2 linked regions of the Homo sapiens genome follow. The protein of the gene in region 1 interacts with the protein of each later gene in a pairwise test. Each region holds a gene or a part of one and is shown on either strand. Other genes may lie near its edges.

Region 1 (3,823 bases):
CACAGGGCATGAAGCACCGTGTGCAGAGATCTGTGGGCAAAAGCCCAGGACGTGACCTTAGGCAAGAGGGGTCCTTGGAGAAGTGGAGGTGTGCATGGTGTGTAGCCTTGCGTGTCTGTGAGCACGCCCTAGTGGACCTGCGCCTGGATTATCGGGCCAGTCTCTCGGAGGGGTCCGTGATGCTGAGTTACGCCATTCACCTGAACTCTGCAGCTCATCGGCTGTAGGATTTGGGTGAGACACTTTTCCTTGCTGACTCATTTCCCCATCTGCAAAATGGGGGTGACGATATCTACCTCTTGGGGTGTGTCAAGGGTAAAAGAGCACACTTTAAGAATCCTAAAGCACTAAGCCAAGGATGAAAGACTAGAAAGCTGCCTCTATGTTGCTACTCTCAAAAATGCTCAGAAATTTTCTTGTCGTACTAAAAATGTGTTATTTTTCTCATTTTCATTCTTCCATTCAACACAGAAGTAATCTAAGTAAGTTCTAAAAACATAGATCCGGGGGCCCACAGACATTCAATTTTCTTCTGAATTGGCTCTGGTATCACACAACACACAAGCAAGCAAACAGCCTGCCTGCTAGGGCCTTGGGTTCCAGGCTGGAGGAATGCAGGCAGAAATCTCTTAGGAAATAACTAAGTGAGCGCCAAGTTTTGAATTGCCTTAGAGCCGAAAGAGAATGTGGCGTGCTGGGGAGAGATCTGGACCTCTTTCTCATCAGTCATTTGACCTGTCCACGAAGAACAATTTTGTTATGCAGCCTGGGAACCTGGTTTCCTTACACCCTGCGCCCTTAATGACACAGACAACCACGGGTACTCCTGGACGGAAGCTCATCACGCCTCCTCAAATACCTTCACCCATGTTCAGGTCACACGGAGGTCACCATCTCCTCAGCACACAACAACTGCTTTGGTTCCCAGGGTTATTTTTTCTACGAGTTGAAAACCCACGGAGCCTAAGCCATCTTTTTGTCCCCTAAGGAGAGCCCCATAGACTAAGAGCTACACTTCCTGTCTGTCTTTCCCACCTTTCCATCTCATTCTAGCTTAAAGCTTATCACGCTACTGAGAGCCTGTTCTGTAGTTCAAGGTGGCAGAGAAAAATACGAACCTTGAGTGAAATCTGGAGAGCAGTGCAGGGTCATCCCCAGACGTGACGGGCCATATCCTAGGCGACTCCTGCAGCTTATAGAAGCAGGGAATTTAATGGACTTCTTCCAGGAAAGCCAGCCCACGGGGACTCTTAAAAAGACACCAACCATTTGGAAGATGCAGCTTGAGGTCTGGGGGACTGGACTGATTCTGCCACCATATAGTGAACACGATTAATCGGGAGGAAGAAGTAAGGCACTCTGTGAGTTAGTCTACCACCCTATTGACTTTGACAGAGAGAAAACCAACTTTTTTCATATGATCACACAGTAGTACTGGAATATCTCGACTGCAATATCCTCTAAACAAATGCATGCAAAGCTTTGTAAAAGCAGCTGATGATTAAAAAAATTTTAAAACATTAGGGTTTTTCTAATATATCCATATGTGGGACAGTGATTTAAATGTCATTAATTGTCCAGCCACAACTTGTAACAGTGATGTGAAAGACACAAAAAAGGCCCCACTGGAGTGGAGGAGTGGTCTGGCTGGTCCCCAAGCAAAACAGAATGGGCTTCGCATAGGCTTTAGAACTTATTCATAAATATTGACCAAAGTGTGAAGCAAGGTATCCAGTGAAGATTCTCTAGGGTCTCTACTTCTGCTCAAGAGATTTAATCCAGCTTTCTCTAAAGCAGTGGTCCAGACTTGCCACATACTAGGTTAAAGATAAAGTGAGAAAAACAAATACTTTGGTTTGCACGTCTCTTGAGGGGCCCTAGGCTGTATGGAGGAATATTTAGAGGAATATTTGTGAGCTGCCATTTGTGTTTAAAAGAACATGAAAGCAAGACGGGCCCTAACCCGCCTGTGTCTGTAGCTGACCAGGAGGCCACTGCTTCCTTCCCCCAGAGCTTCTAGGAGAGCCCCCCAAAATGCAACTCTCCAAGGTCCTGTGGAGTAGTCCCCTCATAATGCCTCCACCACACCTGTGTCTCACGATGCCTTAACTGACGTAGCTCCTAAGTGATGTTCACAGAGAAGGAAATACTTAGGCAAGCCCATGTGTAACATGCTCACAGATGTGCTGGCTTTGCCAATGCTTTCGGACTCCACCATGCTTTCTGATTCTTCTGGTCCTAGTCACGCCTTGGCACGGGGCAGAAGCGGCCGAGCTATGCTGACAGGTGCTGCTGAGAGCCAACAGCCATTCAGCCGAGAAGGCGTTTCTAGGTGAGGGCATGAGAGCTGGCATTCCAGGCTGCTGAGTGCGGCATCTGCAGGTGCACCACATTGCTCCACGGTGTGTTCAGAAGAGACCAGCATCTTGAATCTCAGGCTCTGGGCTCATTCTTTGCCTCTGCCAAGGGACCATTCAGGGGCTTCAAGCCAGCTGCTGAAAATCCCCCTTTTCTGGATTTTTCCCCATCTATATAAGGATATGGTGGCTGTGTGGACAAGAAATTGGTTTCATCTCAGAAGGGTGCTTCCCTACAAAGATCTTCAGAAATTTAATTGAAAACAATTTTTTGAACTTTTTTTGTTTGGCCAGGATGAATGAAGCTGAAGTCACATCCTGAATGTGCATGCCAGACAAAGGGTAAGCAAGCAGTCTTTACAAATGCCAATCCCTCTGCACTCCAAAACCGGAGCCCGTAATGAAGGCCCAGGTTCCAGTCATCACAGGATCCCCCAAGCCAGCACAGTGCCTGATGCCTCCCTAGGCATTAGCACATCCCAGCACTCTAATTCACATCCTCAGCATCCCTGCCTCCTGCATCCAGGGCTTAGGTTGAGTGTTTCCAGAGTGTCAAGTACATTTAAACACAAACCAAATACTCCAGGGTTTTGACCTGTCACAATGGCTTTTGAAAACAACAGACGTACAATTTGAGAGAAGGACTCGATGGACTTCTTAGGCTGAGGACTAAGGACATGTTGCTGTTCCTCTTGGTCCAGGACATTCAATACCATTCACAGCATTCATCACCAACTGACATAGTATCGATCACGACATTCAACTGTTTGAAATTACTGCTATTTTGGTCAAAAACTAAGAAATCAGAAATTGCACCTACATAGTGTGTCTCCTCATTGGAGTCCCATCTCTCTGAGCACAGGGATGGGCTCCTGAGCTCACAGCCCTGCCCTGCCCCCCCAGCAGGGCCTCACCCTCATGGCCCTCAGTGAATAGTGACTACATGAAGGGGGCACTTACTAGAGGCCTGAGTAATGGAATTTCAATTAGCTTCTGCTTCCCTTTTCTAAAAAAGAACCACCTTTCTTAAGAATAATTAGGCCAAAATAAACTTGAGTAATTTGTACAGTCAATATTTTGAAGTTTCGGAGTTACCAGTGAAATAGCAAAGCTGTTCTCCAGGAAAGGACATCCAGGTTCCCACCCAGGCCTTCCTTCCTCAGCTCCTGCAGCCTCATCCTAGTTTAATATGAAGGTTGTGAATGGGTTAAAAAGCAGTTCTTAAGCACCTACTTAGATCTTTTCAGTATCTGGAAATAGCACCCAGGGCTGTGTTAGTAAAGCTTTTCACTGGGTAAGAGTCATACAATTTTTACATTTAATTTGTTTTTTTAAAACAAGGCAGTCTTGTTTTACATATTGGAATGACTAGATATTTTTTGACATTTCTGGCACCTCTGGTTCTGCTGAATTTTAAGGGAGGTGAGTGGTATGTACACAAAGTTAAGATTGCTGCATAATAATTC
Region 2 (3,823 bases), about 73 Mb from region 1:
GACTCCCATTAGAGATACTGAAATTTCAGAACAGCATAATGTGATATGGAACAGCTGTCAAAGTTCCCATTTTAAAGTCTACCAATCTACTGACAAAATGACATGACCAAAGCATCAAAAGCATTTCGCCACAGGACAGCCTCAACTATAGACCCTATATACAGTAAGCCTCCAGTGTATTATAGAGAATATATGTTCAATTTTAGATGTCTCTGAAAAAATGTGAAGCAAAATCAGAAAGTTGCTCAGAACTATAACTGTTTGAAGAAGTGGAATTTAAAATTTTATGATTTCCTTTGAGTATGTCAACTGGTTGCCTCCTTCTACTCAGTGGCAACCTGAGGTGAAAAATATTTCCCCAGAGTAAACTCTTGCCCACAGTCTCCCTCCAATACATAATTCAACTCACAGCCACAATCTGTTGGTCCACGGCATTCTTCTACCCGTACAACACACTTGGATTCACCACCAGGGCATCCATTTGTTAATATAACTTCTCTAACACCAATACCTTTGGTTTAAAATTTAAAAAGGCAAATGTTAAGAAAAAAACTGATTCCAGAGTGTCTTCACTTTCCCACCTAGGTCTTTTCTTAAGACTTTTCTTCTAATTTCAGAAATTAAGTTTCTAAATTCAGAACGATAACACTTAAAATTTTTTTGGCTCTTCATTTTGAATTATTTCCTAAAACAGCATTTTCTGGAGTGAGTTACGTGAAACACTAGTTCCTCTGGTTACCATAAGAAAAAGGATTCCATGATCATACACATTTGAAAATGTTACATCAAATGAAATTAAAGGGACCGCTTTACTACGGAATTTTGAGGGAACTTTTAATACACTAGTAAAATAACATGCTATTGTGTACATTCGCATTGATCTAAGATGTAAAAACATTTTAACATCTTTAAAATCAGAATACATTTACAATTGATAACATGTCATAAATTAATTGGCAGTATTTTTCCTTTTTAGAGTACATAAAATGTACTTCTTACAGTCCATAAATTCGTGGATTTGATGGAATATAGTGGTATACAATATTTCCCAAACTTATTTGACCATGGAACTTTTTGGGGAAGCATGGGGAAAGTTTCTGGAGGAAAATAAAAAATCACATTTTAGCATAAATGATGCCTTTAAATATTTAGATTCATAAAATGTCTGTATTAAATATAGAGAGGAGAACCTATTACTGACCAAATCTCCATTTCCAACAAGATGCTCTCTTTAGATTGTCACACTTTTTGTAACAAGAACTTAACTCTCCTAACTGATCTCAGAATTCCAGAGTTGGCCTCACATCACCACAATTGAGAGAAATAACAAAACATGGGATTAGCTACATGTTGAACCGTGTCCCATGTTAAGACAGGCTAAGAAAGAGTCCATTTTTATTTCCTTAATTACCAGATTTCCTCTTCCAGCCCCTCTACGATGTTATCTTAGAGGGCAAAGGGAAGTTGATGACTAGAGGTGTCTTATAACTGCTTCTCCAACTTGACAGTGCATGCAAGTCACCTGGAGATTTACTAAAATGCAAATTTTGATTCAGCTGTTCTTGAATGGGTTTGAGATTCTGCATTTCTAACAAGCTCCCAGGTGATACTGATGCAGTCTGTGGACCGCACGTTGAATAGTAAGGGAGAAGGCTACATACGAAACAAGAAAATGGAAGGATGGAAGGAAGAAGGTCTTTGGTTAAGAGAGATGATGGCTGAGAATGGCTGAAGTACGGCTCCACTTGAGTTTATCAAAGTTTTTTTTTGAGACGGAGTCTTGCTCTGTTGCAGAGGCTAGAGTGCAGTGGCGCGATCTCAGCTCACTGCAACCTCCGCCTCCCGGGTTCAAGCAATTCTCCTGCCTCAGCCTCCTGAATAGCTGGGATTACAGGCGCGTGCCACTACGCCCAGCTAATTTTTGTATTTTTGGTAGAGACAGGGTTTCACCATGGTGGTCAGGCTGGTCTCGAACTCCTGACCTGGTGATCCGCCAGCCTCAGCCTCCCAAAGTGCTGGGATTACAGGCATGAGCCACCACGGCCAACCTGAAAGCGTCTTTAGAAGCACAGCCTTAATTCCGAAGTAATTAACATGCTATTGTTAATATTTTTAAAACAGGTTTTTTGTTGTTGTTTGTTTTGTTTTGTTTTTGAGATGGAGTCTCGCTTTGTCGCCAGGCTGGAGTGCAGTGGTGCCATCTCAGTTCACGCAACCTCCACCTCCCGGCTTCAAGCAATTCTCCTGCCTTAGCCTCCCAAGTAGCTGGGACTACAGGTATGTGCCACCGCACCCAGCTAATTTTTCTGTATTTTTAGTAGAGATGGGGTTTCACCATGTTGGCCAGGATGGCCTCGATATCTGGACCTCGTGATCCACCCGCCTCGGCCTCCCAAAGTGCTGGGATTACAGGCGTGAGCCACCGCGCCCGGCTTAAAGCAGTTATTTTATGTATTTATTTATTTAGCTAAATACAGTTCACTGAGATGCATGTAGGTGTGGGATTTTCTGTAATACCAAGTAACATCTAAAAATCTGCCTGGATATAAAAGAAAACTTTTTGACTGCTAAAATATTGTTTCAGGAGTTTAACAGAATTTTCATCAAGGCATTTTTCTCTTCTAGTTCTAAATTGGAAGGTTTTTAACATTTTCGGCATGAAATATTGCTTTTCCTAGTTTATTTTTTTCCTTATAACTTATTACCATCTGATACATTACATGTTTTACATATTATGTGTCTGCTCTTACTAAACTATACATTGCTTGGGGGCAGAGAGTTTTGTCTGCTTTGTCTGCTCATATCCCTAGCATCTATAACGATGCCTGGCACATAGTAGGCAAATAATTTTAAAAAAATAATCATTTGAGTGAGTACAATTTCTAAACTTGTCTTTAAATAATAGAAAACAATGGCAATTACTCGAACTGTCATAAAAATAATTCTCTACCTGTGAAAATTTCCGAAGTTAGTAGCTAAACAAAGATGTAAACCACAAATAAGTAATTGCAGGCTTACTACATGGATTTCTCTCATTTTATGACTCTTGACTTACTAAGAAATTAAGGTTAAAAAAAAAAACAGGTTAAAACAATTTTAAGAGATAGAAAGAAGAGTGGTTGCCAGGAGCTGGGAGGAGGGGGGAACAGGAAGTTAGTGTTTAATGGGCATTTTAGTTTGACATAATAAAAAAGTTCTCGAGATGGGCGGTTGTGATGGTTGCACAAGAATGTGAATATGCTTAAGTCAACGGACTTGTATGTTTAAAAACGGCTAAAATGGTAAGTTTTATGTTGGGTATACTGTACCACAATTTTAAAAAGCTTCTCCAAATAAAAACAATTCAGGTGTAATTTTTGACACCGCCACCCCTGCAAAATTCATTCTGATCTAGATCTGAATGGATTTTGTCTTCTTATCCTCTGATAATTGTCCCGTTTTCCCTCTCATCACTATTTTCTTTCCAAGGCAGATTCTATTTAGAAGAAATTTAATTTGATTGTGAATTATCTATGGTCTTCTCAGTACCCTGGTCTACAGCATTGTTTCTCAAAGGATAGTCCTCTAACTAGCAGCATCAACTTCATTGTAAACTTGTTAGAGAAATTTTATGTCCAATTTCTACCCATGGAATGATCAGACTAAGTCATATTCTTTGAATATTATCCTCCCCACAAAGCCAATACATCTTTTCTCCAAAACATGACACGCAAATTGGAGAAATGTAGAATTTAGAATGGACTATTACAAATAAGCAAATTCTTGATAAATTTGCCAACACAATATGTGGGAAGACATCTGTGAGATGCATTGGAAAATCTTT

The links.
Region 2: the proteins of AGPAT4 (region 1) and SPACA1 interact in binary tests that used the Homo sapiens proteins (3 or more experiments, as listed by UniProt).

The regions. Positions count from the first base shown.
Region 1 is NC_000006.12:161,131,021-161,134,843, reverse strand, and holds part of AGPAT4 (1-acyl-sn-glycerol-3-phosphate acyltransferase delta), read left to right. Parts: 3' UTR 1-3,823. UniProt on the Homo sapiens protein: Converts 1-acyl-sn-glycerol-3-phosphate (lysophosphatidic acid or LPA) into 1,2-diacyl-sn-glycerol-3-phosphate (phosphatidic acid or PA) by incorporating an acyl moiety at the sn-2 position of the glycerol backbone.
Region 2 is NC_000006.12:88,054,300-88,058,122, reverse strand, and holds part of SPACA1 (sperm acrosome membrane-associated protein 1 precursor), read right to left. Parts: intron 512-3,823; coding exon 410-511; intron 1-409. UniProt on the Homo sapiens protein: Plays a role in acrosome formation and establishment of normal sperm morphology during spermatogenesis. Important for male fertility.